Regions from separate parts of the Homo sapiens genome. Here regions 1 and 3 are each linked to region 2. The links come from fine-mapping of genetic effects on gene expression. A gene starts in region 2. Each other region holds a variant in brackets. All regions are shown on one strand. Distances are from middle to middle. Region 1 overlaps LOC107986764 (a long non-coding RNA gene). Region 2 holds the start of LINC03016 (long intergenic non-protein coding RNA 3016). Region 3 overlaps LINC03016 (long intergenic non-protein coding RNA 3016).

Evidence for each region. PIP is the estimated chance that this variant, and not a neighbour inherited with it, causes the effect.
Region 1: its variant is the best candidate, but not a certain one, in a credible set for the expression of LINC03016 in whole blood (INTERVAL, PIP 0.70).
Region 3: its variant is the best candidate, but not a certain one, in a credible set for the expression of LINC03016 in whole blood (INTERVAL, PIP 0.88).

The regions. Positions count from the first base shown.
Region 1 is chr7:7,285,164-7,295,507 of GRCh38, forward strand. The region is part of intron 1 of LOC107986764 (a long non-coding RNA gene); the gene reads left to right. Among named protein-coding and RNA genes, the nearest start is that of LINC03016, 35 kb to the left of the region's middle. The variant C/T (reference allele first, on the strand shown) is at 4,745.
Region 2 is chr7:7,249,173-7,259,516 of GRCh38, forward strand. It overlaps LINC03016 (long intergenic non-protein coding RNA 3016), which reads left to right and starts at 5,982. Exons shown (of 4, transcript NR_108073.1): 1 at 5,982-6,006.
Region 3 is chr7:7,273,685-7,284,028 of GRCh38, forward strand. LINC03016 (long intergenic non-protein coding RNA 3016) reads left to right here. Exons shown (of 4, transcript NR_108073.1): 4 at 3,901-4,385. The region is part of intron 1 of LOC107986764 (a long non-coding RNA gene); the gene reads left to right. Among named protein-coding and RNA genes, the nearest start is that of LINC03016, 24 kb to the left of the region's middle. The variant T/A (reference allele first, on the strand shown) is at 5,392.

The sequences.
Region 1 (10,344 bases), 36 kb after region 2:
CTCAATGTACCAAAACTTATGAAATGCAGCAAAAGCAGTTATAAAAGGGAAATTAATAGCAATAAATGCCTGCATGAAAAGAAAAAAGATCTTAAATAAACTAACTTTACACCCCAAAGAACTAGAAAAAAGAACAAACTATATGCCAAGTTTTCAGAAGGAAAGAAAAGATTAAAACAAAAATAAATGAAATAGGGACTAGATAAACCATAGAAAAGATCAAAATTAAAAATTTATTTTTTGAGAAGATAAACAAAATTGGCAATAGTTAAGAAAAAAAGACTCAAAATAAAAAATGAAACAGGACACATTACAATTGATGTCACAGAAATAAAAAGGATAAAAGACTACTATGAACAATTAAGTGCCAACAAATTGGATAACCTAGAAAAAAATGAACAAGTTCCTAGAAACATACAACCTACCTGAATCATGAAGAAATAGAAAATCTGAACAGACTAATAATGAGTAAGGAGATTGTATCAGCAATCAAAAATCTCCCAATAAAAAAGCTCAGGACAGGATGGCTTCAACTGGTCAATTCTACTAAACATTAAAAAAAAAAAAAACAAAAAAACCAATCCGCCTTAAACTCTTCAAAAATATTAAAGATGAGGGAACACTTTCAAACTTATTTTATGAGGCCAGCATTACCTTTATATCAAAGACAGACAATGACACTACAAGAAAAGAAAACTACAGGCTAATAACCCTAATGAATATAGATGCAAAAATCCTCAATGAAATATTAGCAAGCCAAATTCAACAGAACATTAAAAGAATCATACAGCATGTTCAAGATGGATTTATCCTGAGGATACAAAGATGTTGTAATACATGCAAATCTATAAATGTGATACATCACATTAACAGAATGAAGAAAACCAAATGATCATCTCAAGAAATGCAGGAAAGACATTTAAAAAAATTTATTATTATTTTATGATTAAAACTCTCAATGAATTAGGTATAGAAGAAATATACCTCAAAATAATAAATGCTATATATCACAAGCTTACAGCGAACATCGTATTCAATGGCAAAATGATTAAAGCTTTTCCTCTAAGATCAGGAATAAGACAACAATACCCAATTCTCCCGAATTTCTATTTAATATAGTAATGAAAGTCCTATCCAGAGTAATTCGGCAAGGAAAAGAAATAAAGGCATCCACATCAGAAAGGAAGAAGTAAAACTGTATGTTTGCAGATAATATAATCCTGTATGTAGAAGTCCTAAAGGCTCAACCAAAAAAACTGTTTGAACTAATAAACAAGTTCAGTAAAGTAGCAGGATACAAAATCAACATACGAAATTAGGTAACATTCTCATTCTCTCTCACTTTATTGCCCAAGCTAGTCTTGAACCCTTGGCCTCAAGTGATCCTCCCATCTTGGCCTCCCAAAGCACTGGGACTATAGCTGTGAGCCACTGCACCTTGTAAGTGGTTTCTATACACTAACAATGAATGATCTAGGGGGAAAAAGTCAAGAAAATAATCCCATTTAGAGTAGTATCAAAAAGCATTAAACACTTAGGAATACATTTAACCAAGGAGATGAAAGATTTGAACACTGACCACTACACAACATTGACAAAAGAAATTGAAGATGACACAAATAAGTAGAAAGATATCCTATGTTCATGGATTGGAAGAATTAATGTTAAAATGTCCATATTACCCAAAGTGATCAATGCAATCCATAAAAGAATTCCAATCACATGTTTCCATAGAAACAAAAAAATCCTAAAATGTGTATGTAGCTACAAAAGACACCAAAGGGGGGGAAAATAAGCTAGAGGCATCACATTACCTAATTTCAAATTATATCACAAAACTATAGCAATCAAAACAACATGGTACTGGCATAAAACCAGACACATAGAAAAATAGAACACGGAGCCCAGAAATAATCTCATATATATAGTCACTAATCTTTGACAAAAGCATCAACAATACACAATGGGGTAAGAATAATCTCTTCAGAAAATTTGGTGCCAAGAAAACTGGATATCTACATGCAAAAGAATGAAATTGTTCCCTTATCTTACATATGTGAAAAATAAATTCAAAATGCATTAAAGTCTCAAACATAAGACCTCAACTGTAAAGCTACTAGAAGAAAACCTAGGAGAAATCCTCCTTAATGTTGGACTTGGCAGTGATTTTTTGAATATCACACCAAAGACACAGACAATGAAAGCAAAAATAAAGAAGTGGGCCTACATCAAAGTAAAAAGTTTCTGCACAGTGAAAGAATCAATCAACAAAATGCAAAGGCAACACACGGAATGGGAGAAAATATTTGCAAACTATATATCTGGTAAGGGGCTAATATCCAAAATATAAAAGGAACTCATACAACTCAAGAGCAAAAAAAAAAAAAAAAAAAAATTGAAAACGGGCAGAGGATCTGAATAGACATTTTTTCAAATAAAACATGCAAATGGTCAACAGCTATATGAAAAACTGGTCAGCATCCACTAATCGTCACAGCCACAAGGAGACATCACCTCACACACGTTAGGGTGGCCATTATCAAAAAGTCAAAAAATCTCAAATATTGGCAAGGATGCAGAGAAAAGGGAATTCTGTACACTATTGGTGGGAGTGTAAATTATTACAGCCATTATGGAAAACAGTATGCGGTTCCTCAAGAAACCTAAAAATAAAACCTAAAATAAAAATTGTATAATCCAACAATTTCACTTCTGAGGATATATCCAAAGGAAATAAAATCAGCATCTCAAAGAGATACCTACACTCCCATGTTCATTGCACCGTTATTCACAATAGCCAATGGAATAGGATATGGAAATAACCTAAGTATTTGTCAATGGATAAATGGGTAAGGAAAATGTGGTATATATACAATAAATTATTATTCTGCCTTTAAAAAGAAGGAAATCCTGTCATTTGTAAGCACACTGATAAACCTAGAGGACATTAAGCTAAGTGAAATAAGCCAGACACAGAAAGCCAAATGCTGCATGATGTCACTTAAATAAAAAATCTAAGATGGAATCTAAAAAAGTTGAATCCATACAAACAGTAGAATTGAGGTTGTCAGGGTCTGGGAATCTAAAATTCTAAAATCTGAAAAAGTCAAACTCATAGAATGTGGAATCTAAAAATGTTGAACTTGCAGAGACAGAGTAGAATAGTGGTTGCCGCCAGGGAGGCAGGTGAGCAACGGCAAAACGTTGGTCAAAGGGTACAAGCTCTCAAAAAGCTCTAGAGATCTAATGTCCAACATGGTGGCTACAGTTAATAATAACGTACCGCGTACTTGAAATTTGCTAAGAGAGTAGATCTTAAGTAGATCTTGCACACACCCCCATTCCCCCACCAAAAAACAAGGTAACTATGTGAAGTAAGGAATAGGTTGTTAATTAGATGGGGGAATTATTTCATAAAGTATATGTTTATTAAAACATCACATTGTATATCTTAAATATATACAATTTTTGTCAGTTATACCTCAATAAGGACGGGGGAGAGAATTTTGTAGCTATCCACTATTAAAGAAAATACTTTACATAGAAATTTCTGTAGGAAAAAAAATTTGTTATTATGAATCTGAATTTCTCTAGCCTGTAACTTTCATTTTCCTTTTGAAATGATAGTTCTTTATAATGGAATTGTTAAAAACTGAAGGTTGGTTACTTGGAAACCCAGTTACTGAGTTTTTTTATGCTGCCTGAAATTTAAGGTACTTCAGCATAGATAATGTGGTATGTAGGTGTCTGTTTAAATTAGTGTTAATCTATATCCAAGAAGATGCTTAACATTCAGTACACTCTAAACTCACACTTGAAAGGTGGGTTGCATATGAAAGATGCTGTACTCTGGATAATTCTGCCAGAGCTTCAAAACTTGCTATCTGAATCTGCACTTAAAGAGTTTCAGAAGAGATAATATAAGACCATTTTCAATAGTGAAATGAATGATATGCCTCCACTCTTGGATGAACAGAAGTGTGAGAAATGAAGAGCCTGGGAGCTTAACACCTTGGGAAAAGACTCCTAAAATTTAGAACCCTATCTTGCATTCCTCCCCTTAATGAAGGGTTTTCTTGTCTGACACCATTAGAAAGTTAGCTGATCTTTCAGTCAGAACACTTTCTCATTTTTCCTGGGAATTAGCCTTCCAGGCAAAGTGGCTACTAGAGTTCCTAGATGATCAGAGTATCAGGACTACACTGAGCTTACAGAGCAAGAAGTATGACTGTTTGGGAGTCTGCTTGTAATGGGTATTTGTACACCTCTTGATCTGAGACTTTCATGAGAGGTTGTAGAAAGATGTACACCTCAGTAACTATATACCCTGTTTTGCCCAGGAGGGTCCCAGTTTGCACTTACTGTCCAGTCTTGGTTTTTAATAACACCACTTTTCACTTCTAAAAGTTTCCAAGTTTGAATGTTAAATTATAAGGATACTCTTTTGTGGTATTTTAAAACATATGTCCACAAATTATTTGCTATTTCTCCCTCAAGAGAAGGAGCCTAATTCCTCACCTCTTGAGTATAGGCTGGACTTAGTGACCGACTTCTAAGGAATCAAATAAGGCAGAAGTGATGCTGTATGACTTTGGCCCTTGTCCTAAAAGATCCCCTTGCTTTTTTAGTATTTTTAGTACAGATGGGGTTTCACCGTGTCAGCCAGGATGGTCTCGATCTCCTGACCTCGTGATCCACCCACCTCAGCCTCCCAAAGCACTGGGATTACAGGCGTGAGCCACCA[C/T]GCCCGGCCTAAGATCCCCTTGCTTTTTTTAGGGGGGACCACTCACTGGGGGGAGACCAGCTGCCATGTTGTGAGAACACCCAAGTAGGCCTAAGATAGGCCCACATGGCAAGGACCTGAGGTCTCCTGCCAACAGCCAAGTCAAGCAGGCCATTTTGGATGTGGATCCTCCCGCCCCAGTCAAACCTTCAGAGACCACAGCCCCAAATGACAGCTTAACTACAGCTTCATGAGAGACCCTGAGCTAGAACCACCTAACTAAGCCATTCTCAGATTCCTAATTTTCAGAAACTGAAAGAATGTAAATATTTGCTCAGCACTGCTAAGTTCTGAAGTATTATGCAGCAAAATAGAATACAACTACCTATAGCTTTCACACAGTTCTCATCTTTAGACTTTATTGACATTTACTATGACAAATGAAAATGACCAAATTGCCCTAGGTCTGGCTGAGCCCCAAACCCTCTCAGTATGTTCATATTTCAGCATGGCAAAGCAAAAATTAACCATTAAATTATACCCAATAGTAGTAATAGCTATCACTTTTTGGGCATTTAGAGTTTCTTAGAAACTTTGCTAGGATTTTGTATAGATTTACCTGATATACTTCTCACAATAAGCCCTATGAAAGGTATTCCCAACTTCATTTTGTAAGCAAGAAATCTGAGATTCAGGTAAGGCAGGCTCCAAAAGTTCCCACAGCCATTCATTGGTGGAACCAGCTCTCCACCCAGGTCTATCTGACTCCAAAGTTCACACTCTTCACCAAACTTAAAACTACACACTACTGTCTTTCAACAAAGAATCCAAAAAAAAAAAAAAAAAAAAGAACAGAAATTTTAGTGAAAGACAATGAACAAATGCAGAGAAACTTTGTCTGAAAAAGAAAATATGTAACGTTTTATATGCTGTTGTTAAACCATATTTTTTTCAAAGCAAATAATACATTCATATCGTTCAAAAGACACAAAAGATATTTTGACAAGATAGCACTCACCTTTGCCCCCAGCCACCTGGTGACCCCTTCCGGAGGCAATGAATACTGTTTCTTGCATATCTTTCCAAATATATTCTATGTGTTATCGAAGACCATGCCTACATATACTCCCCACCACTACCATTGTTTCTTACGCCAGTGATAGCATAGACTGTACATTGTTTGGCACCTGTTTTTAACCTAAGAATGAATTTTGGATGTCATTAAGAATCAGTGAATAACAAAGTATCCTCACTTTTTTTTTTTTTTCCTCTTTGAGATGGAGTCTTGCTCTGTCACCCAGGCTGGAGTGCAGTGGTGCAGTATCAGCTCACTGCAAGCTCAGCCTCCTGGGTTCACACCATTCTCCTGCCTCAGCCTCCTGAGTAGCTGGGACTACAGGCGCCCGCCACCATGCCCGGGTAATTTTTTGTATTTTTAGTAGACACAGGGTTTCACCGTGTTAGCCAGGGTGGTCTCGATCTCCTGACCTCATGATCCGCCTGCCTCGACCTCCCAAAGTGCTGGGATTACAGGTGTGAGCCACCACGCCCAGCCCTCACTTTGTTTTTTTTTTTTTTTTTTACAGCTGCATTATATTCTATTGAATTGTATAACATAATTTATGTAATGACTACCCTTTTAATAATGATTTTAGTTATTTGCAATCCTGTTATTTCAAAACAAAATGCTGTGACGACTAACTTTGCCCATATATCATCTCTAAATGCAAGTTCTCAGCCTCATAGCCTACACTGACTTGCTGAAGGTTCAGTCCTAAGGCATTGTGGACTAAATTATTTACTAGCTGAACATTAAAACTATAGGTACTGTGTTGTGATTTTTATTGTTATAGTTTCTAATTTGGACTTGAGATCTCTGTGGAGAATGGCCATAAGCCAAGATAGCCGCTTGCTAGGAGAGCCCTGGTTCAAGTGTGTTGGTCATGAGACAAAATGAGAAGGTGAAACCAAATTGCATGAAACAGAAGAAATGTATGACTTACATATCCCAGAGAGGTTAGGGGTCCCGATGGCAGGCCACAGAAGTCTGGAGGCAACAGGGAGCTCAACCACCAAGCGGGGAGCGAGAGAGGAGAGAGCACATGTGGTCACGAGGCTTTCATTAAGGCCCATTAGCCTTCCTGAGGGGGTTGTGAATTGTCTGGTTTAAAGAAAACACAGATGAAGGGGGAACTTATTAACTCTGGTGTGGGCCATTAGGTTTTATCATGGCCAGCAGCTGTGGGATGAGGAACAAGTGGGCTATATTGTAAACAACCACACAGGGAGAGGAAGTTTTCACCTGGTCGAATGCGACGGGGTACTACTGAGTTCCAGTAACTTGTGTTAGGTCTAAAATGGATGCCCAGGCAGCAACTCCATTAAATACATTTATGACAGTACTGAAACTACTGGTTTCCTTTTCTACTATTCTGAGAATGGGGTGAGGGCAAAAGAGCACATTTTCGTATTTCTTATCTTAAACAAGTGAATAGGCATTTATCTTCTAACCCACTTTATCAGAAAATAGCTGATGAAATGATTTGAATTTGGCAGGCTTATCAGTTCAGTTTTCAATACATTCTCATTTGTCTGTGCAACCAAGGAAATGGTGGCTGCTTTTTAATATAAATACCTTTGTATTTTCCTCAAACTTCCCCCATGTTCTCTTCTTGGAATTCCTACCTGCTTCCGTCCTGCTCCTCCTGTAAATATGCAATTATTTAGGCCTGAAAGCTGGAATTCACCTGTTTCCTCTTTTTTGCTCTCCCCCGGATTGTAGGGGCAATCATCAGAAGAGCCAGAAGTGACCTCGAAATTCTCATTCTTGGTTGCCAGGACAATGGGCCAGCTGGGATGGGAGGCTCCTTCTCACAGTATGAGAGGCTGCACTCACACCAGCTGCTCAAGTGACCAGCCCCCTTCCCAACCCGTCCCTCCTACCCGACACAATCTCCCATAATCTCAAGGTTGCCACATGCTGCATGACTAGCAGACTAGCATTCCTAGACAAAGTCTGTAAACTGCAGCCTCCAGCAGCGTGTCTCTCCCTGCAACAGATATCAAGGGGTTAGTTTCCACTGTTGGAATATAGACCCACACTGCACATCCAGCAGGGCACCCTGCCCCAGCATACTTCTCTGTGGGATGATGGGAGAATGGAGAAGACCTGCGGTCTCTTCCCTCGATAATTCTTCCAGTTTCCCAATAATTTGTCCCTTTTTCCAATAAAGCCTCTTCCTAAACACATGCTGTGTGGCATTGTGGAACTTGTCCTGCCCCTGAAATGAGATAAATGAGATAAAAAGAGACCCATCTTGCCTAGCATATGACCGGTCAGTCTCCAAATACTCCTAATCCTGGAGCGGCTGGTTTACTCAATGATGGACTTTGTAGGTAAGGCAAAGTACAGCATTTTTTGTTTCTCACCTCTCCCCCTTAAACCTGCCCTGCAGATCCATTCTAAGCCAGCCCTGGAAGAACTCTCAGGCAAGGAATATAACCTTTCTGGTCACTGTCACATAATAAACAGTCCATTCTAGCTGACCTGGCTGAGGGGATGAGGAATTACAAGAGCAGTCAATGTCACCAGAGTCAGAGCCACCTCTGCCAACCACCCTCCTGCGGCATGCATAGGGGAACTTCCAGCAGCACCACATCTTGGAACAAAGAGTAGATGTCCAACTTACCAGAGGGCAACATCCTACCAAAATCCCAAGGCGAACAGAAAGATACAAGGGGTGAGAAGCAGCCTCCTTTATTGGATAAAACCAAGCCTTTCATACCCGACCATGTCAACATGAGTAACTAATCAAAATAATTAGAAGGTGCTTACAGCTGAATACTGATCAAGCCTTCTTCCTGTTGGTGAGCAGAAATAGTATGGTGAGCATTTCCACACTGGTTTCCAAGGTGTATAAAAATGACAAGAATGAAGATGGATTCCTGTAAATGGTATATGACTCTCCGGAGACATTTGGAATGAAATTTCTATTTAAGACTGGCGAGACACATCTATTCTAGAATTTTTAAAATACTTAACATGGAAGCAAAGGGATGCTACCAGCTGAGATGGATCCATTCATTCAATCACAGGTCATCAAAACAGTAGCGTTTCCACCTAGGAGTTGTAGAAAAGCAGAAACACTTAGCTCCAGATGAGTACATTCAGCTTTGGAAAGCTATATTACTTAACCTACGCTTTAGAAATTTAAAAACAAAATACTTTGCATTTGAAGTTGCCAATAAAAGAGACTTTCAAGTTACTTTAATGTTTTTTTCCCCAATATGAATTTGCAATTCAAGCAGTAGCTTAAAATCATTCAGAGAGACTTTTTCTCTTTAGTTTCACAGAATCTGCCAACTTGTTTTAAAACCAGAGAAATCTCCATAAGAGGATCTTTAGGTATAAGTTTTCAAGAATAGCCCCCCCAAAACTCATTGCCATAACAGTTACTGCAAAGCAGGATACTTGGGGGTATATTTAATAAAAAACAAAACAAAAACAAAAAAAAACCTGACTCTGAATTGCTGTTCAAGATTTCTGATTTTTTATGGGAAGTATACCAAAGGTCAACTTTCTTGCAGTGTTAACAAGTTTTTACCTGGTTTGCTTCTAGACCATTACACACAGGGAAATAACAAAATCAAACCACTGCTTAATAGGAACCTTGAATAATTGATAGTTTTGGTCTGGCTTCTAAAACGGTCCCAGAGGGATTTAAAAAAAGTGGCATTTCTTTTATTTTGGATTTCCTCCAATCTAGGAATTCAAACTAGTTCTTGATTTGGTAAGTAAAGAAGCAGTTGTGATCAGCTACATTCTTTGGGACAGTGGTAGAAACTACAGAATATAAAAACTAAAAGCATGACAATTCAAATGTATTCCCTTCTACCTTTTGGCTTAAAGCTATACATGATTCATGTTATGTGTTAAGTTTAATAAAAGATGTTATTAAAAATTTCTCACATTTTTAAGAGTACTTCAGTTATCACTGTTAGGTGAAACAAGTCATCACAATTTCCCCACTCTAAGTGCACGTCAATTGTGAAGAAAATGTAGCCTAAGGAGACATATGTTCTTTACAAATACGAGGTTGGAAGTTAAACATCTTCAAAGTTCAATCTAGAATAAATGACGATGCTTCTCGCTACTTACATGGAAGTTGCATGGGATTTACTCTTTATGATTTCCTGGGAGTATCAGATAGACCACAGTTGTGTCATTGTAGACTGTAGAGGTAGCAGGTCAAAGTTCATCCTTCTGTGTTTGAATGTGTGTGAAATACCTGTATCTGTTAGTAAAAGTTATTTAATGGAGAGAAAAAGTCAATTTCACTGCATATGGACCCTCAACTGATTATAAAAGGATCTCTAGCCTCTGTCACCTACTCTTCCCACTGCATGCATCTGTCCACAGGGCTAATTTTTAAAGTGTATGTTTTTATATTGTGTAAATTCTTTCAGCCTGTCTAGTTTAGATTGTATACATCATCATATTTGGCATTCTTACCACTCCTGTGTGAGCCATAAGATTCCTATAAGAAATACTGCTTTACAAAAAACACCATGCTTTACAAAAAATGCCATGCTTTACAAAAATCACACATTAGTGGGTGGTC
Region 2 (10,344 bases):
CATTTGAGCAGAGACTTGAATGTTGAATAACAGACATTTTATATACTTCAGAAGTTACTTTTATCTATGAAATTATTTGCTCCAACTATGTGTTAAAAAAAAAAAAACTTTCCACCCTTGCTTAATCATGCTGTAGGTGTAAGTGAAGGCTTACTGAAATGTACACTATAGGCTAAAAAACTTTGTGTTTTTAGGCATACTTCATCCAGAGCTCAGGTGTATTGATAGATTTGTCTGGGAGTTTCAGAATATGAATAAAAATAGACCTAGTATTTTATCTCTTTCTGGGCAAACAGTTACAAATTCCATAAGGCCCTTGAGTCTAGCCTATATGTCTTGATTTTTCAGTAATCTGCTACCCAGTATGTTATTAGCATGTGTGTGTGCACACGCAAGCATGCATACACACTGTTATTTGGATTAGACAGCTTTAGAAAAGCTGAGGAGATAAATACCACTTCATACTACTTTAGTAGTAGAGTTGTATAATTTAACATATTCAGACAGCTAAATATTTTCCAACCAGCTGTACTGATAATTGTTAAGTCATTGGAAAGTAGATATATTTACCTAAATATATACAATTAAACCTATTTTAAGTTTTCCAAAGGTATGACTTCATAGTACTGGAAAGCATACAAGAAGATTCTTGCTGAATTTATCTCCTTGTTAAAGGGAAGTACTCTACAGAGCTCAACATAGTGGTCGTCTTAAAGTCTAATAATGCTGACAATATGGATTGTTCAAGGGAAATTTTTTTAGTGGTTAAGAATGAACTAACATTTAACTACTAAAGTTGAATGAGTTCAGCAACATTGGCATTCTCCAGATGCATCTGTATTAGTAAAACAGAAGTGAACTTTGTTTTGCCATGAGTTTATTACTAATTAACGCATTTTGTATTGCTGCCTAGAACTTAAAACTGTCTCTGTGTTGCATTTCTTCTACAAAATGTGCTAGTGTTTCTTGTATTATTATCAATATTGCTTTTCTCCAGGACTGAAAATTTGTCCAGGGCATTATATACTTTCTTATATATTGCCCCTGTATAGTGCAGGTTAATACAACAGCTTACTTTGAAATAACAAAATACTCATATTTTAAAAAATGAGATTCAATCCTAGAACTTAGGCTCTTTGGCTTTTCTAATGAATGCCTAGTGAAAGATTAACAGTACTTCATTTCTAGAACTGCCGAATGATGTGCTATCGTAGAACTAATTTGGGTACAGTGTCTTCATTTTTACAACTAATCAGTTTTTGACTTTCATAAGCTTCAATTTTTTTTCATAGAACTACCTAAACTGCATTGTCTCCCCTTCTATACCTCTAACAGTTCATTCTTATTAATTTTCTTGTCTAATTGTTAGATTGTGGAAAGGTGGTGATAAAATCCAGAACATAGGTTTGGAAGAGAAGTAATATGCAACTTTTCCTTTAGTTCTACACATGACTCTCTTCCTTGTTTTTATACTTTTTGGTGGGGTGTGGGTAGGTGAGTGTGGGTATGTATATGTCAGAGACAAAGAAAAAGGATGGTTATGATTATATTTTAATAACTGGATTTTTAATGTAATTGAAGTATTAAAACCACTGCATTTTCATGTTGATTAGGTTTATATAATAAGTGGTTTATTTGATGAAGTGAAGGTAACTATGTGTTTAGAATAATTGGCCACAGATATAATTCCTGATTTTTAAAGTAATTTTTACAAACCTACTTGCCTGACGGAATTTCTCTCTTTTTTGGCCTTTGAATTTATAGCTCTTGGAACCTTCTCCTACTCATCTCTCATTCCATGTTTTTTTCTTTTACCCTTTCTTTTTCTTCTGATTGGCAGCAGCAAGTCTTTAGTTTCTTAAGACTTTTTATTGCCCCCATTCTTTTTTTTTTTTTTTAAGTAGGGACAGGGTCATATTGTGTTGCCCAGGCTGGTCTTTAAACAGTTTGGCCTCCCAGAGTGTTGGGATTATATGCATGAGCCACCATGCCCGGCTGCCTCTATTTTCTATCAAAATGGATGTGTTTAAGACTTTTTAAAAAATTGTGTATCTTTTGTGAACCTCAGTTCCCTCTCACCAGCCTAGAAGTTGCTGAAAGAAAGAAGAGATAGCACTCAAAGAATCGATGCCCACATTATCCTGCAGTTTCCTCTTTCTTAAGGAAATGTTTCCTTCTAGAACCTACTCAGTGAAAATATGGGTGCTTAAATACCTGAAAACCAGTGGGGAGAAAAACTTAATCTTTATAGATAAAAGATTTCAGTGTTCAGTATTAAGGCAGTCCTCTCTCACATCTTAAAAATGGTCACTATGACCTGTTGAATAAAATGAATATAACCTCAGATTATGTGACCTTCCACAGCCTGACCTAGCATGTATTCCCTTTTTAAAAAATTGCTATTCCTTACCTAAACGCCAGACAATTTAGCTCCAAATCATTTAACCAACATTTGAGTGCCTACTAAAAGTATTGAGCTAGATAATAGGGATAAAGTGGCAAATTATATTTGTTGCTGTCAAGGAACTCACCTTCTATTAGAAGCAAAGTACCCAAAAAAGTAGTTGTGTGCAGTAGAGTTATACTCTCAGGCAGTGTGCTAATTGTTTTACATTGCATTATCCCATGTAATTCTTACTACAATCCTGGTGGATGGATTATACTATCCACTGTTTCAGGCTTCTACTGGGGATCTTGGTATGTATCCCCCCGTGGTTAAGGGGGAACTACTGTATTTTGTTAACCTCCAGCACTTTACACAAAAGGGGAACTGAAAGTACCAGATGCTACATAGAAGAAAGAATGGAGTGTGTGAAGCAAGAGACTCTTCTCGAAAGGGGCCAATTTAAATCATTTCATTTCCATATGCAGCCATAACCATGTAAAAACTTCCATCCACATCATTCAATGGCTTTTATACTCTTAATTCATATTGCTAAGAAAACTTCTGGCTTATTCTTCTTGTTAAAGTTTATGAAGTGTCCTGATATGGAGGGGGGAAAATGCCATTTCTATGACATAAGCCCATTAACCCACCCAAGTTGTCAGAATCAAGAGGAGGTGTTTGAGAAATTGTTTCCTCTTTTTAAACATTTAACATTTTTCTTTTGTGTTAGTTTTTCTTCAAAACGTACAAAAAAGTACGCATCATTGTATCTTGTGTATTTACTACCAGCTTTTACTAGATAAGTCATCTTTCCATTGAAAAAGTGATAAGCTCCATTATTTTAAAAAAAACTTAAACATTCATTGCAGATGACCATTTCAAAGATGAAAATTTTTAAAGGACCCCAAACCCCACCACCCCCCAAAGTAATTCCAATTAATGCATAAATATAAATTGGATAGGAAGCTAAATAGATAGAAATGGTTTTATTAAAGTGAGATCGTGTAACAAATGCTAATTTTAACATTATAATTTCAAAAAAATACAGTTGCTCTTGATGTGGCCAAAATCTGCAAATTGTCCTGGGGGCAGGGAGAGGGGAATGTCATCTTAGCAGCAACAAAATTGAGTGATTTCTTTGGGAGGGGGAGATGGAGAGAGGAAGAACGGACTGGACTTAGGCTTCTCTGTAGCAACATTCAGTGCTAAAGCAGAGTGAAGCAAACTCTACCAGATTCTTGGGGGAGGAAGAAGCCAAGTGATTTCAAATGGAAGGGTAAATTGAAAGAGTGAGGGTGGACACTTCTTGAAAAATCTAGATGATGAAGCCCATCTAAAGAGATAAATGGACAAACATTGAGAACAGGACTGGTGGTGGTTAATTATTTAACTATGTAGCTATAGAATTATTTAAATAAGGCTATGGAAGCATATTGAAATGTTATAAATCTTGATATAGAAAAGATGATTAACAAGTTAGAAAATAGAATATCAAAGACGAGGTAATATATACATGCCCTAATTGGTTTTACTTTTCAGAATAGAAATTTTGTAAAATTGATAATATATCAAGAAATAGGGATGTAATATTCTGAATAGTTATGAAGGTAATCACCAAAACTGTAAGCCTGATAACTATTAAAATGAAAACACAAAATTAAAGATAACACAGGCCATATAAGAGAGCTAAAGGGAGAATTTACAATAGATGACAGAATTAAGACCAAACATAGATATGATGTCAAATAAGGAAAAATATGATTTAACTTATAAATGTATGAATATACAAAAACTGTTGGCAGTACCTTTGGGGAAGGGTACTAGGATTGGAAAGAAATTCAATAATTCACTGTTTTCCTTTTTGAACTTTTAAAAAATCATGTTTATACTGTCACAGTTTAGAGAAGTAAAGTGGGAAAAAAAAGCTGTTGGCCCTGGCTCCCTAGGGTTTTTACAACCAGTGGTGAAGAATGTCCACAGACATTCTTAAGCAGCAGTAGAGGTAAGCAGGTACACACATGAGCTGGAAAGATCTCAAAGCTGATTTGGATTCTTTTATCTTGCCATAAGAAATTACTTTCTTCAATCAAGGGTATAAAGACTGCTGAACTAGTTCATAATGAGGGTAGATGAAGGAGGTATCCATCTTCAAGAGTGGTAAATAGTTGACCCATACAAAGGACCAGCAGCCTCATGTGGACCCGTCTTAGCATCCTTCTCTCCTTCTACTCCAAGGGTGAAGAGTACTCGGAAGTTACTATTTATTCTCAAATCCTTGTGTCAGATTATTTTCATATCTTTCTTAGATCTGTTCTGGCTTAAGTCTTATTCTCTTATTCATGGAAATAGAAGACACTGAGCCCTTTCCCACATAAAAATATAGGACTACTGATTTCTAGAGCTTAAAGATGTTCTAACGCCTCGTTTGAAAGATTCAGAAACAGATCTAGAGATGTTAAAGTTTAGAAAAATGACACAAATAATGCCAGAAGTGGCAACAGAACTCAATTTTCCTGACTCCCAGGTTAGTGGTCTTTGTACTAAATGCAATTTCTTATCTTCCCTGAACAACCTGAGCTATGTACTTTAACAAAATTTTTTGTGGGTACATAGTAGGTGTACGTATTTATAGGGTTCATGAGACACTTTGATACAGCCATGCAACAAGTAATAATCACATCATAGAAAATGGAGTATCCATCCCCTCAAATATTTATCCTTTGTGTTACAAACAATCCAATTATACTCTTTTAGTTATTTTTAAATACACAATTAAATTATTGACTATAGTCACCCTATTGTGCTATCAAATACTAGATCTTATTCATTCTTTCTGTTTTTCTTTGACCCATTGTACTGCTAGATAGAACTCACATATTTGGTCCCTGCCTTTTCCCACCATTTGCAAATAGATTCTAGGAACGATCCTAATAGTTGCCAGGCACTGTTATCAGAGATCAAATCTGTCTTGTTTCCAATTGTGCCTGGGACATAATAGGATTTTTTTTTTTAAATAACAAAGCCATGTGTAGTGCTGCATGCCTGTTGTCCTAGCTACCCAGAAGGCTGAAGCTCAGGAGTTCAAGTCCACCCTGGGCAACAAGACTCCATCTCCACAACAAAAAAGTTTAAAAAGGTTACTATACGATTACTATACATTGTATGTATCAAAATATTACTCTCTCCCCCATAAATATGTACATTATATATCAATTAAAAGGAAGTAAATGGTGAGCATCCTTTCACTATGAAGAAAAGTTCTCCATATGCCCCCTACTTTCTTCTGTTTCATTTTTATGGAGACCTCTAAACAAAATGCTTTTCTCATAGATATGGAGGGACTCCTAAACAGGTTTTCTGCTTGAGAAAATCTTGATTTGAACTCCACGTATCATACACCATCAGGCAAAAAACCTCGCATTTACGTTGGAGAATACAGTCCAGAAAAAGAACAAAACCTCAAGTGTGGGCAGAAGATTGTGTGTATTTGCTATTAGGGAGGAGAGCTCAGGTTCCTTTTCTCTACAGTGACCATTAGACATTCCAAAGCACTGTCACTTGGTGTAGCTCAGTGCTCTTGGTTACTGAAGCAACAAGTGATCTCTGATGACAAAACAAAGGTAGGGTCGTGCCTAACACTGGTAAGGAGAAAACTGTGTCGAGTTAGTTAATAATTAATTTACATGTCAAGTTACAAGTTTTCTATCCTAAAATCCAAAAAAAGCAACAGCTCTTTTTTTTCCTCCAGTCATTAAATCACCCATTCAACAAACTTTCACCAGGCTCATGGTTTGTCAGCTATAGAAGAGAAAGGAGGGCGAAACCTGTGGTTAAGGCTTGCCTGAAGGATCTCACATTTGGGTTGGGGGCTGACATGCCAGTGAACAAATAGCCTCCTCAGGACTATGATAGAGGTATTTACAAAGAACTATAAGAGGACTGTATATTAAGTGTTTAGGGATCTGAGAAGTTTCAAAGAAATTGTGGCATTTGAACTGGATTTAAAGAATAAGGCTCAGGTACAACTTCATGTGAAAGAGTCGATATATTCACAAATTTGCCAAAGCCCAGTTAACTTCAATTCTTCGAGAGTTCCAGTTTTTTCCCAGGTGCAGTCAGTGTACCATTTTTTTCTGAGACCCACAGCCATTTTCTTTCATTGGCATGTTTTTAGGTTTATTTTTCAATAACTCCAGTACCCCTGAAATTTCCTTCCTTAGATCTTGAATAAATATATTCAAGTTGGGCATTACTGCATGGTTTGAGGATAATGTCTTTCCTGTTAAAAATATTTTTAAGTTTTTATACAAAGGTAATGTATGTGCTTGGTAAAAGAGAATGAATATAAAATGAAAAGCTATAATCTGCTACAGCCCCACCCAGCAGTCCCTTTGTCCAGCCATAAACAGAAAATAACAGAACTGTACTCATTTCCAAACTAAACACATCATTCTGCTCCTTGCCTTTTCTGCTTACTGTTTAATAACTTAGAGATAATTCTTTTTAATAGTTAACTAGATCTCTGTATGGATGTGCCACAATTTTTAAGCCATTCCTCTATTGATAATTGAGTTGGATACTTTTATTATAATTATTGCTGCACTGAACATCCTTGAAATGATTGTGTGGGTACAGCCATAGGATAAGTTCCTAGCAAGTAATTGCTGAGATAAAGAATGTATGCATTTAAATATTCATAGATACTGCCAAATTGCCTTCTTAAACTGTACTGTACTACCTTATACTACTACTCAACATTTGCGAGTATATTTTCCTGCCCCTTTTACCAAAGTTTTTGATTATTGAACTTACTAGTTTTATCACTGCATTAATATCTGATAATTGTTGATTTGTACTTAAGGTTTGAGTTTTTTTTATACATTGGTAATTTGCATTTCATCTTCGCCAGTTTTTAATATTGAATTACTAGGGTTTTTAAAAATTTTTATAAACTCTCTGAATATTGGTTTATTTATATGTATTAGAACTGTTATGATTATTTCGTACTTGTTTTTTCCCCACACAAACCAATTAATCTTTTCTTAGGGCTATTGAATTGTGTGTCTTGCTCACACCAAGGTTTATTTATAATATGCTTATGTTTTCCTCTTACTTTCATAGTTTCATTTTTTGTGTTTATATTTTTGATCCCTCCAGAATTTATTTTCTTATATGGAGTGAGGTAGGAAAATGGCTACCCGTTTGTTGTAATACACTTTATTTGACGATCCTTTCTTTCAACATTTATTTTAAATCACCATTACCCCATGATATTTCATTATCGGTTTGTGTATAAACTGTATTCTGGTCTGCTTATCTGCCTATTTCTTGTGCAGTACATTGTTTTAATGATTTCAGATTCATAACACTTAATAACTGACAGAATGAATTACCTACTTAAACATTTCGTACAGACACTGTGGTGGATTCTGCTACATATCATGGCATTATGCCATGAATGCTTTCCAGCATTACTGGCAGAAATAGCCACCCTTAAAATATGCCCCTCGTGATCCTCAGCGGTTCCCAGGGTACAGTGTAATGTGTACCCAGAAATGGGTTGCCCTCTTGCCCATTCCTGGGCTGCCTCCTAGGGACAGTGACTCCAGTTAACTTGCTGCTTCAGTGGGCACTACCATCTTCTGCTGGTGACTTCTGTCATCTTGTTTGACCCTGGGGAAAAGACTTATTTTCCTCTTTGTTGCCCACAGTAGAGACCAGACTTTCCTGACCGTTCCAGAATAATGAAAGAAAGGGTCCAGATAGTACTTTATGAGAGCGGCCAAGCTCCAGTGGAATCCTCTCCACCCTTACCAGGCTACTGCTCTGCCCTCTTTGCTACCTGTTTCCAGGTCACCAAAGGTAGTTCAGCTACCCCACTAGAAACCTTCAGTTATCAGCACTTCTTTAGAATTGGAGCCAAATTGACATCTGCACTAAAAGAAATGAGGAAGGTTTCCACTCACCTAACACTCTGGACACCCTCCTCCCAAAATTCCTGCTGAACCAACCTCTCCCCTGGGAAACTGGCAGTGAAAACATTTAGTCTTTTCAGAGGAAATTACACCTTTACTCAGAGAAACGTGGTCTGGATTTTGGATCTGCAGCCCCAGTAAGAGAATTGCCTAATGATCTGGTATCAGTTAGTACAATCAGGCCCTTCATATCTGTGGGTTCCACATCCATGAATTCAGCCAATCGTGGATCAAAAATATTCAATAAAAAATAATATGACAAAAATATAAACAATACAGTATAACTGTTATTTCCATAGCATTCGTATTAGGTATTATAGAGATGATTTAAAGTATGCAAGAGGATAAGCATAGGTTATATGCAAATACTATACCATTTTATATAAGAGATTTAAACATCCATGGGTTTTGGTATCAGAGGGGGTCCTGGAACCAGTACCCCAAGGATACTGAGGGACGACTGTCTATTTCGCAGTCTGTATTGTTTTTACAAGTGGGGCAGCAACAACCAAACCCAAATGAGGCCGCATCAGGCTCAGCCCTGTTCCTATTTTGTCTCCCTGCACTAAGGGTTTCAAGCATGTCTTAGGGCTGTGGTCAGCTTGTTAACACAAATCAGCCTTGAAACCTAACAGAATGTTACTTTACAATTTCCTGTTACTATGTTCCTTTTTAAAGTAAGCTACTTCCAAATCGATCTTCATCCTTTTCAAAATACCAAATTTCGGAAATGGAAGGGGGAAAGGAATGGGGGAAATACAAAGTGAAATCACCTGTATTTTCTTAGGGACCCTAACTTAGACATGACCAGCTATTTCTGAGATTCTTAAGTAAACTGTTTTTTCTCTCTGAAAGTCTGACAGTCTCTGCCATGTCAAGCTCTTTATTTCATGTCTTATACTTAGACCCACTCAGGCTACTTGGACAAATGCTCAAATAAGTTGACCAAATGAAAAACGTGTTCAGAGGTTGAGTGACTCAGAGTGAGAACAAGTGAAGCAGAACTGAGTGGTGGAACTTAACCTGCGCCTGAAGTTTTGAAACACATCAAGTCTAGTCTTCTGTATTTTAATAATATACAGACTTAGAGGGTGGAAAGAGATAAAGTGTTATGTGCTCATAAAATCAATTTATAAGTGACCTCATAGGGTCAATCACCTCAAGATAATATAAATTCATGATTTAATATATTAATGTAACCTTTGCTATGTATTAATCAGTATAAATTTATAATTCAGTAGTCTACAAATCCTAAACTTAGAGAATATTTTCTGAATTTGCTCTTTGATTACTCCACGTCTCTGCATAGAATTTTCTGACACTCACTCATCAGGATGTGTTTATAAAGGGTTTTCTTTCTTCCTCTTCACATTTAAATGATATAGAATTACCCAAACTTCCTGTTGCTACTGAAACTGAAGCAAGAGAAGCAAGGGAAATTGAAACTGAAAATGTGAACCAGCGACTTTACCCAGAAGCACAGTTGATGGCATCAATGAGATCAATTTTTTAATGAAATTAAAGAAAGTAGAGGTTTCAGCTGACACTGTTTTTCTCCAGACTCTCTACTATGCGGCAGGATGGTAGTTGTTTCCTCTCAACGGAGCTAAAAATTAACTTCATCCTATGGCATGATGTATTAAAATCAGGAGTGTTTGGCCCGGCGTGGTGGCTCACGCGTGTAATCCCAGCACTTTGGGAGGCCGAGGTGGGCGGCTCACGAGGTCAGGATATCACGACCATCCTGGCTAACACGGTGAAACCCCGTCTCTACTAAGAATACAAAAAAAAAAAAAAAAAATTAGCCGGGCGCGGTGGCGGGCGCCTGTAGTCCCAGCTACTCAGGAGGCTGAAGGAGGAGAATGCTGCGAACCTGGGAGGCGGAGCTTGCAGTGAGCCGAGATCGCGCGACTGTGCTCCAACCTGGGCGACAGAGCGAGACTCCGTCTCAAAAAAAAAAATAAATAAAATAAAATCAGGAGT
Region 3 (10,344 bases), 25 kb after region 2:
AACTGTGCATTGGTTAGAGTTGAGCAATTAGATTGTCTAGATTCAAAGGTAGTTTTTACTACCAGATGTCTGCTTCTCCCAAGAAGAAAGTCTGTCTCACAGTTTCATCCCCAGGTCCCAAGGGGTCCACGGGGGTGTGTGAGCTTGCTTCTTGGGAAAAAAGACATCTGGAGTTCTCCCACACTGCCCATGCTGTGCAGGATGTCTGGGAGGCTCTCCTCTGCTGACTTGATGCTTCCATTTCTCATTGTGTCTAGGTCAGTCTGGCTGTTCACTTTGGTATCTCAGCCACCCACCCCTTCTTACTTCCAACAAGTGCATCCAACAGTATTGGATGCATATAATTTTTTTCACAATTTTACCAAGAAATCAACAAAGTACTGCAGCATGTTTACTAATACTGTAAAGACAAGTTCCTCATACAACCCTTTTCCAATCTCCATACTGCCCTGGCTCCTGCCAGTCTCAGATACCCTACTCTTAGACCTTTGTGTTTTCCACAAGGACTCTGCCTCTTCGGCCCAGTCACCTGGGTCACCTGAGCTCATGGCCCTCCATCTATAACCAAAGACCTATCTGAGTGCCACCCCCTTGGGAGGAACTCCTAGCAAACTCACACAAATTTTATGGATATAAAACTTAATAGATATAAAAATATCTGACTAATGGATATACATGAATTTATTTCTGGGTATGTTTTTGGCTAACAAAAGAATTTTGGATTAACAGCAGCTCCTATCAGGGGTACTTAGAAAAAAACAACAAATTAGTCATAGACAAAAGGAGGCAGAGAAAGTTGGAAGGAAAGGAATAGAGATATGTGTAATGGAATACTGAAAAGATAAAAGAAGATAATGGAAAGTAACCTAAGGCCTAAGAACCAAAGCATGCGAGGATATATGAGTAAAGAGAAGTACTGAAGAGCTGGGATGCTGGGAAGTAGGTGATGGGTGTTAACCTCAGAGTAAAAAATTCAGAAAAAGATTTGCAGTAAATATGGCTAGTTATCTATAGGATTCAATTTTCCTCTTCTTCTGTAATAAAATACTTATTTGTTTAGGGCAGAAATGTCATCAGTTCAGAATATTTAACTTCCTAGACCCCCCTTTGGCTAAGGGGCAGATGTGACACCAGTGAGATGCAGGTGAATGGGGTTCTAGAGGCTTTCCTTCCACAGCAGGGGACAAAGCCTCAGAAAGAAAAGAATGTTGCTATTTCCCTCTGCTTTCTCCTAATTCCTGCCTTGTGAGTGGTCCTGATGCTGACAGATGCAGTAGGTATCTTGCAGCCACGAGGAAGAAAACAGCATGACTAAGGACAGGAGGAGCTGAAAGGGGGATGACACGTGATTTCTGATGAAAGCCTTGAGCCATGACATTTTTTAAATGAAACTAGATACCTCTTACTGAAATGCAGAGATTTCCAGTTAAATTTCCAGCAAAAGAATGAAAAATGGAAATTAACTATAAATCACTTATTTATGTAAAATAATACGAACATAATTTCTATTTGGGGTTCTGTTTTTGTTATTGTATTTTAGTAAACCTTAAAATATAAGAGATTTAAAGCTTACTTATAACCTGAGTCTGCCAAGTGTTTTCTATTTCTTTGTGTATGGTTTTAAGTTCTTCAGCCTCAAATAGTACTTCACTGGGTGTTTTCAGGAACCTACATCTGTTTGGGGAGGAATTGCTATGTTATAATCCTCTAGGACTTTGAGTCCAAGGATATACACACCCCAGCAATCATAGTCTTATAGCCACTAATTCAATTCTTCTTATAGCTTTTGGGGTTTGGGTATTACCCCTTAGAAGCCAAGTTATTAGCTGAATAAGGAAGTAACACCTCCAACAATGCTGTTCACTCAGCATGTTTCTTAAAAAACTCCTTGTTATCCGAGCAAATCCTAAGGATATACACCCAAGATGAGTTATGGAGAATTAATTACTGACTCCTGAGAATCTAAAAATGGGGCAGCAGCCCAGGTGTTCTCATCCTGGAGTCATGCTGTTTCATAAATGCAACTTACCTTAGGTAAACTTAGTGTTTATTTTTGATAGTGCAACAAGTATAGAGCTCAGACCCGTTTCCGGTGACTTCCTTTAGGAAATCTCAGTATATATTTGTTCATTAATGTGCAATAAGAATAAGCTTTCTAAAATTTGGACAAGTAGAAAAAAGTGGTATTTCTGTTCTTTGAATAAAAAGCAAATGCATTTAAAACACGCATAATACACAAGTAGGTAAATTTATCAAAAGGAAAAAGTGATCAATCCTATTTAAACTACCTGTTTTACAATTGCAATAGTTTCTTATTCAGAAATGTATTAGGTCAACTTAAGTACTATTTATTACATCAGAACTACCAACACCTTTAGTACCCTGTTTGGAAGACCGAACATGGATCAGATGTTAGTCCCACCTTAGATATAGCAAATCATTTATTTCCATTTTAATAGTTGAAATTTAGAAAGCAAACGGACCCAGAGGGGATATGCCCACAAGCAGGAGATGAACGTGTTCCAAATGGCAGTATATTTCCAAGGAGACTTACAGGCTTTTTATTCCAAGGATTGGCTCAATACTTCATTACTCAGAAAGTGTGTTTGATCAGGCGAGACCTTCAAATTTGAGCTCCTCTGTGGTCAGGGGAATGCTAATGACTGTCTGACAGCTTGTCACAGACATTGGATTTTTTTTCTTAGCATCTCTGGCCAGATTTCCTGTTTTCTGGCAGCTGTGCTGGTGCAGATTGCCAAGAGGCACCATACCCACAATCTTGAGAGGATTCTGTTTCCAGCAAGCCTTCTTTTACTGTCATCTATGTATTACATCTCTATTTCAAGTCTCTCTAGAATTTATAGTCATACTGGGCATTTAGTTTCAATTTGCATTTGTTTGTTACGTGGCTTTACATGACTTTTTGTCTACTTCATGAATCTGTCCGATCTTCCCAGTAGATCTAAGTACCTGGAGGATCTGACTCTCTTTGACATAGAGAGACTCCCCAGAGACCATGCCTTTGATTTCATTTATAGCCCTTTAGGACAGTGTTTCCCCCTCAAACTCTCTTGCAGACTGGTAAATGTCCTAAATTACCATTTAGGAGTGGGGAATAGAAGGAATGGAGTAGGAAGTGAAATCCAAGACAAGTCACAGTACCTGTTCATAAAAGGGAGGGGTTGCTAGGCAGGAAATCTTTGCCACTCTGGTCTTTTCTCTTAGAGAACACTACCCAGGACTGCTCATCGATCATTGTCAACTATTTACTTTTACGTTAGGGTAAAAATGACCTTATATGCAAGTAGTAGTGATTCTTAGAGTAATATATGATGCCTAAACAATATCTGCAGGTGGTAATAAATTAGAGGTGTGACAGGGCAGTGCTTCACAAATGTTCCAGCTCAAGGTACAATCTCAAGCTTGTTCCAGCAAGTACATGCCCATGTATAGGGGTTAGGGGCTTTGTCTTCTACCTTCACCATTCCTAAGGTATTTAAATCCAAGTCTCTAATAACTTATTCTGGTTTTTAAAGAGGGTAGTTGTTCACATGATAATAATTTCAATAGGGCTGAGATGTTTTGGAGCATGGTAGATGGGCATCACTCCTACTGAGGCTTGCAGGCAAAGAGGAAGACAGATATTGACATTTCTCAGCACTGGTACATGTGCTGCAAGTCACCTATTGGTCAGTTGTAAGAGCAGGTGCAGGACAGTGTATATACAAGTCAACACTGGGAGAGGCACATGTAAGAGCTGAGGGCTTATAGCAAGGCTTGGGCAAAGCAAGGGGTATGGTTGAGCCAGAAAGTCTATGAGAATGAAAAGGCCAGGGGTAGAACCTCAGGCCTCAGATCTTGGTTAAATCCTAAAAACTACTCATTGTGCTTCTGTTGCAGACAATGCATAGGAGTGAATGAGACAGAAAGCAAGACCATGAGGATGACTAAGAAGAGCAAGTACAACATGGCTGAGACTAAGTGTCCAGGGAGTTGAGAATAAGTGGCCTATTGTCATGTCCTATATAAGTAGAGTATATGGATGGGAGGCCAAGAATACACCAACAAATAAAATATTGAATATATCGGTCAAGGGCATATCGAGATGATCAGGATGCTGCCTATTGGAATGTTTATCCTCCCACCCTACCCCAGAAGAGGAGCTTCTCGTCTTGTTCACCGCTGTTTCCCAGCTCCTGGAAGAGCCTGGCACATAAAAGGTGCACAATGAACATTCATTAAAATCAATGATTAATTGAACTGGCTAGTATTCCATCTCACTTTCATTACTGGAGAACTGAAGAGCCAGCTAGCCTACAAAAACTCATTCTGGATGTAGAAGCAATAAGAAAACATGCATTCAAATAAAAGCAGAGAATCCTTCTAATATTTCTTCATGTGTCTATCTTTTCCCATCCCCAACACATTTATTTTCCTTGACCTACAAAGGATCTGTTTTGTCCATGATGAGTCCCAAAAACAGCCCTCAAAGTGGTTCTCCCCACCTACCCCACTCCACTGATGCTGCATCACATGGTAGGGTGTTGCCTTGCTCCTCCATGCAGGGAGCTTTTCTCAGCACCACTAAGGTACCAGGGAAGTGGTAACTGGGAACAATTTTCCCCAATACAGATAAAGCCTAGATAAAAAGTAGGGTGATACATAGGCAAGGGGTAGATGGGGCCTTCCTAGAGGACACTATGTCTTCCTGAATTTAGTCCATTCATAATCAACAAACCAGCCCTACTGATTTAATGCCTAGGCTCTGCTGCCTGACTATATTTAGCAAAGCTTTTGAATGGCAGAGTGATTTCCTATAGGAATACTGAGTTTTTTCCAGGGACAGATGTAGCCTTGGTACATTGTCTGGTTATGTAGGATTTTTTTTTTTTTTTTTTTTTTTACTGCACTTGTGCTGTTCTCCTTTTTTCAACTTATAGCTGGAGACCGTTTTCTGCTACCTCAAAACCTTTTTGAAATTAACCAGTAATAAATAAGATCTTTCTCTATAGACAGCTTTTTTCAAAGGAATAAAAGAATTAGAAAATATGGAGGATCCATAGTATGCACGCCTTTGGTTCCTGAGGTCCCTTAGATGATATGGAATTCTTTAAAAATGTAGATCGATTTTGATAACATCATAATCAAGATCCTAAGAAATCACTAGCATCCATCAGATTATAAAGTTTCTGAGCAATTCTCTCCCCAACCCCCATCCTGAGCCTAACATGGTGACTTGCTCACAGCCTCACTGGATAGATACTGGTTAGATAAATGAAAGCATTCATTAATCAATGTGATGTGAAGAATTTAGATAAATGATTCCTATTTCTCTCAGTCTAACAAGGGGAAATAGTCCAATAAACATATCTGTAAGTTTAATAGAATTTG[T/A]AAGTTCCTTTGAATATTTGGAAATCTATGATTTCATTTTTAAGACACACAGAATCTATTATGATAGAGCACTGAATTTTATTCAGTTAGGTAATTTTGTGCCTCTTATTTTTAACCAGTTTGGTGTCTTTCTTGTGCTTTTCACTATAGTATTCATGGATCCTATTAACAGTAAAGAAAGTGGCAGACGCCAGGCATGGTAGCTCATGCCTGTAATCCCAGCACTTTGAGAGGCTGAAGCAGAATTATTTGAGGCCAGGAGTTCAAGACCAGCCTGGGCAACATAGTGAGAACCTTTTTGTTGTTACTGTTGTTGTTGTTTTTTAAAGAGAGAGTAGAGATACTAGGTTACTCCGTGGTGAGGCTTGGGATGGTGGTGGGAATGGAGTGGAGGAGGGACTTCCTTCCCAATGACTAGATATGTCTTAATTTGTAAGACGGCTCTCTCCCATGTGACTTTCTCTCCTCTACCTATGTCAACTTTGTGTTGGGAGTGTTCAGGACAATATGTGAATGGAAAATTCATAAATGAATGTACCAATAGAAATAAAGATACATGTGGGTGTTGCTTTTTCACTTTTTCAATGAAGATCTGATCCTTTGGTGTTTTACTTGGTCCCAATCCCACTTTTCCACAAGTTGTGGCTAAGGACTTGTCCTTGATTATAAGATTCTGGTTGTTGAAACTGTTATTTATGCATGAAGGACTACTCAGAATATCACTGTAATTACACATCTGCCCCTCTGAGTTCTTCAAAAATAGGAACATGACAGATATGTTTGGAAAAGGTTAAAAATATGCTTAATGCTAAAAGGAAAATGAGCTAAAATTTTCCTGGTATTGTATTATAGTTCTATATTTTATGATGATCTTTATTGCAATAGTTATACCTTGACTTTACAAAATTCTTTCATGTTTTAACCCTTGGTGTCCATACTTTTGCCTTTGGGAATATCATGCAGGCTTGATGTAACCATTTTGCTTATAAGACAAGCAAATTGGACCAGCCACAGTGGCTCACACCTTTAATCCAAGCACTTTGGGAGGCCAAGGGGAACAGAACACTTGAGTCCAGGAGTTCGAGACTAGCCTGGGCAACATGGTAAAACCTTGTCTCTACTAAAAATACAAAAATTTGCCAGGCATGGTGGCACACGCCTATAATCCCAGCTACTCAGGAGGCTGAGGCATGATCTTTTGTCAATTTAGTTTACAGGGCCCCAGCAACAGAACCTTGAAGGGTAAAAGAAAAGAAACCGTGTTCTTCCCTGCAATACAATAGGAGAGTTCAAAGGATGTGACTCAGGGTAGGTCAGAGATCCACAAGGGTTTCATTTCTGTTGTCAAAATAAGTACAGTGAAAATACCTACGAAAAGTAATAATTTAGAGACTATTAGTAAATAGTTCTTTGGTATAAGGTAATTTGTCATATTATTTGACTGGGGAAGGAACTTAGGTCATCCTCAGCTCTGGGATGCCTACACGGCAGGCAGATTGGTGCTTTTTGCAGCCTCACAGAAGACAGAAACAAGCAGAGGGCAAAAGATAGAACTCAGAAGGAGAAAGTCTAGTTGACAGAGCAGGAACATCGCCATCTTGGACAAGCACTGCCATTTTAATGTTCACCTTCATCAAAAACCTCGTAAATCCAAGGGCATCAGCCTAATGACTAAGGTCAGAATGACCATAAGCCACAAATGACATCTCTTACCAGAAACATTCCAACCATAAGATAAACCCCTCCCCAACCAGAGACTTGCCAGCCCCAAGATAACCTCCCCTCCAGCCAGAGAGATGTCAGCCCCAAGATAACCTCCCCTCCAGCCAGAGACATTCCAACCCTGCAATAAATTTCTCCCCCACCAGAAACATTCCAAGCCTGTGGTAAGTTCTCTCACCCTGAACCCTTAAATACTTATTCTGTAAGACAGAAGGCTCCTAACCAAAAATCAGCCAGAAGCCCCTCTCAGGTTTATTCTCCAAAATAAACCTGTCTTTGACGGTTGAGCTGCTTTTCATGTTTCTTTCCTCTTTGGCTCTTATGCTAGCGCTGTAGTGCTACTTCACTATTTTTTTTTCTAGAACAGCTGAAATTCTCTTTTTATGTAGAATGAGACTCAGGGAGATTTGATCACTTTATAAATTTTTTTTCAAAGCAGGTCCCATTTCTTTCCATCCCTTTCAACAATCCTCAGTGCCTTATATAAATGACAGTTTTCTAATAAATGACAATATTCTAGCTTAGTAGACAATAAACAAAATGGAGAGGGAGAGTTTTGCATAGTCTTAAATAATAGCTAAATAAAATATAATCATCAACTTAAAGATGAGAACTCTAATTACCACATATTGTGAACAATTTCCATATAATTAACTGTTGTTTAGGCTATAGAGTAACTAAGACAGCTCTCTGGTTTTCCTGTATGTAGAAAACATATTGGTTTGGCAGATGTTTTACTTACTATCAATTGCTTTTCAATAGATAGTTTCTCTTCCTTTGCAGTGAATTCAACACAATCCACTTAAAACAACAAATGTTTATTGAGTAATCAGTACATACAAGGCAATATGTTAGGCCTGAGAAGAAAAACAAAAATAAGCCTCAATACTTTCTCTTGAGAAGGTAACAAAAAGGAATAAAATGTATGTGTAAATTATGATAATCTGTGGCAGAAAAAGTAAGTGAATAAACATTTCATCTGGGTGGAAAAGTTTGGTCTTACATTTGTGATGATACTAGAAGGTAGGCAAGATTTAAAGGGCTGAGACTAAGGAGTTTCCAAGAAAAGGGAACACTGCCTATGAAAATATGAGGCAGATAATCTTGAAGTGTCTTAGTTTTTTCAAGTTTCTATAACAAAATATAAACCACGTGGCTTATAAACAATAGCAATTTATTTCTCACTGTTCTAGATGCTGGTCCAAGATCAAGGCACCAGCAGATACAGTGTCTGGTAAGAGCCCATTTCCTCGCTCCTAACTGACACCTTTCTTGCTGTATCCTTAGATGGTAAAAGGGGCTAGCTAGCTCTCTGGTGTATCTCTTATAAGCATACTAATACCTGTCATGAGGGTGGAGCCTTCATTATCTAATACCTTCTAAAGGCCTCACCTCCTAATACCATCACCTTGGACATTAGGATTTTACCATATAAATTTGGGGAGGACAGAAACATTCAGACTATAGCAGAGTGTTTTCAGGGAAGAATGAGAGATGTGGCTGACAGAAATTTAAGGGATCACAATAGAGTAGGACTAGTTTATGCTAATACAGTAGCCATTAGCTACACGTGGCTACTCAGCACTTGAAATATGGCTAGTCTAAAGAGAAATTTTCTGTAAATGTAAAATACATACCAGATTTTGGACACTTAATTTTAAAAAGTAAAATATCACATGTTTTTATATTGATTGTGCATTACAAGATATTTTCAATAATACAGATTACTAGAATTAACTTCATCTGTGCCTACTTTTTTTAATGTGCACACTAGAAAATTTTAAGTTACATATGTTGCTCATATTATTTTTCTATAGGATAACATTGGGCCAAATTATGCCAAAATTTGAGTATCAGACAAAGCTCCCCAATAACCCTTGCTGCCACTGCAGACTCCCATAGCCTAGGCCACCAAGGTTTCCCACAGTCTCCACAGATGGTGACCTCAGTTGACAGAGCTACATGGAGACTGCACCACTGCACCCTCCCCATAACTGCAGCCACTGCACCCCACCAGCCAGCACCCTAACACATACCTGCAAGTGAAACGCTTTCCCCACTGAAGCCAGTCCATAAAATCTGGAAATGTTTACTGCTCCCTCCAATGGCAGACATCTATGCAAGGCCATGAGAAACATGAAAAAGCAAAGAAACATGACACCACCAAAGGAACAAAATAATTGTCCAGTTACTAATCACCTCAAAATGGAGATCTAGAATTGTCTGAAAATTGATTAAAAATAATTATTTTAAGGTAGCTCAGTGAGATACAAGATAACACAGATACCTCAGCAAAATCAGAAAAATAAGACATAAAATAGGAAGTTCAACAAAGAGATAGAAATCATAGATAAGCCAAATAGAAATCCTGGAGCTGAAGAATACAATTAATAAAATGAAAAAAAATACAATAGAAAACTTCACCAGCAGATGAGATCAATCAGGAGAAAGAATTGGTGAACTCAAAGACAAGGCTTTTGAAATTATTCACTCTGAGGAGAACAAGAATAAAAGAATGAAAAAAAGTAAACAAACCCTGCAGGACTCATGGGCCACCATTAAGTGAACAAATATACACCTTATAGGAGTTTTAGAAGGAGAAAAGAGAGAAAGAGAAAGATACTTATTCAAAGAATTAATGATTGCAAACTTCCCAAATCTTGGAAGAGAAATAAACAACCAAAGTCCGTGAAGCTCAGAAGTTCCCAAATAGTCTTTACCCAAAGAAGACTTCACCATGACACATTATAATCAAATTGTCAAAACTCAGAATTTTGAAAACAGCAAGAAACAAGTCTTTCCACATACGGTGAAACCTCAAAGGTTATCAGCAGATTTATCTTGCAGATCAGGAGAGAATGGGAAGATACATTCAAAATTATTAAAGAAAAAAATTTGCTAATGGAGAATACTTTAACTGGCAAAGCTGTTCAGAAATAAAGGATAGATAATTTCTCAGATTAAAAAAAAAAAAAAAAGCTCAACAAGTTAATCATTCCTGGACCTGCCTTATAAGAAATGCTAAGGAGAGTTTTTCAACAAATGAAATGAAAGAATGCTAGCTTGTAACATAAAAACATAAAAATATAAAATTCACTGGTAAGGTAAATGTATAGTCAAATTCAGAATTCTTTAATACTCTAACGATCTTGTGCAAATCACTTTTAAACTCTAGCATATAAGTTAAAAGACAAAAGATTTAAAAATAATTGTAGCTACAAAATTTTGTTA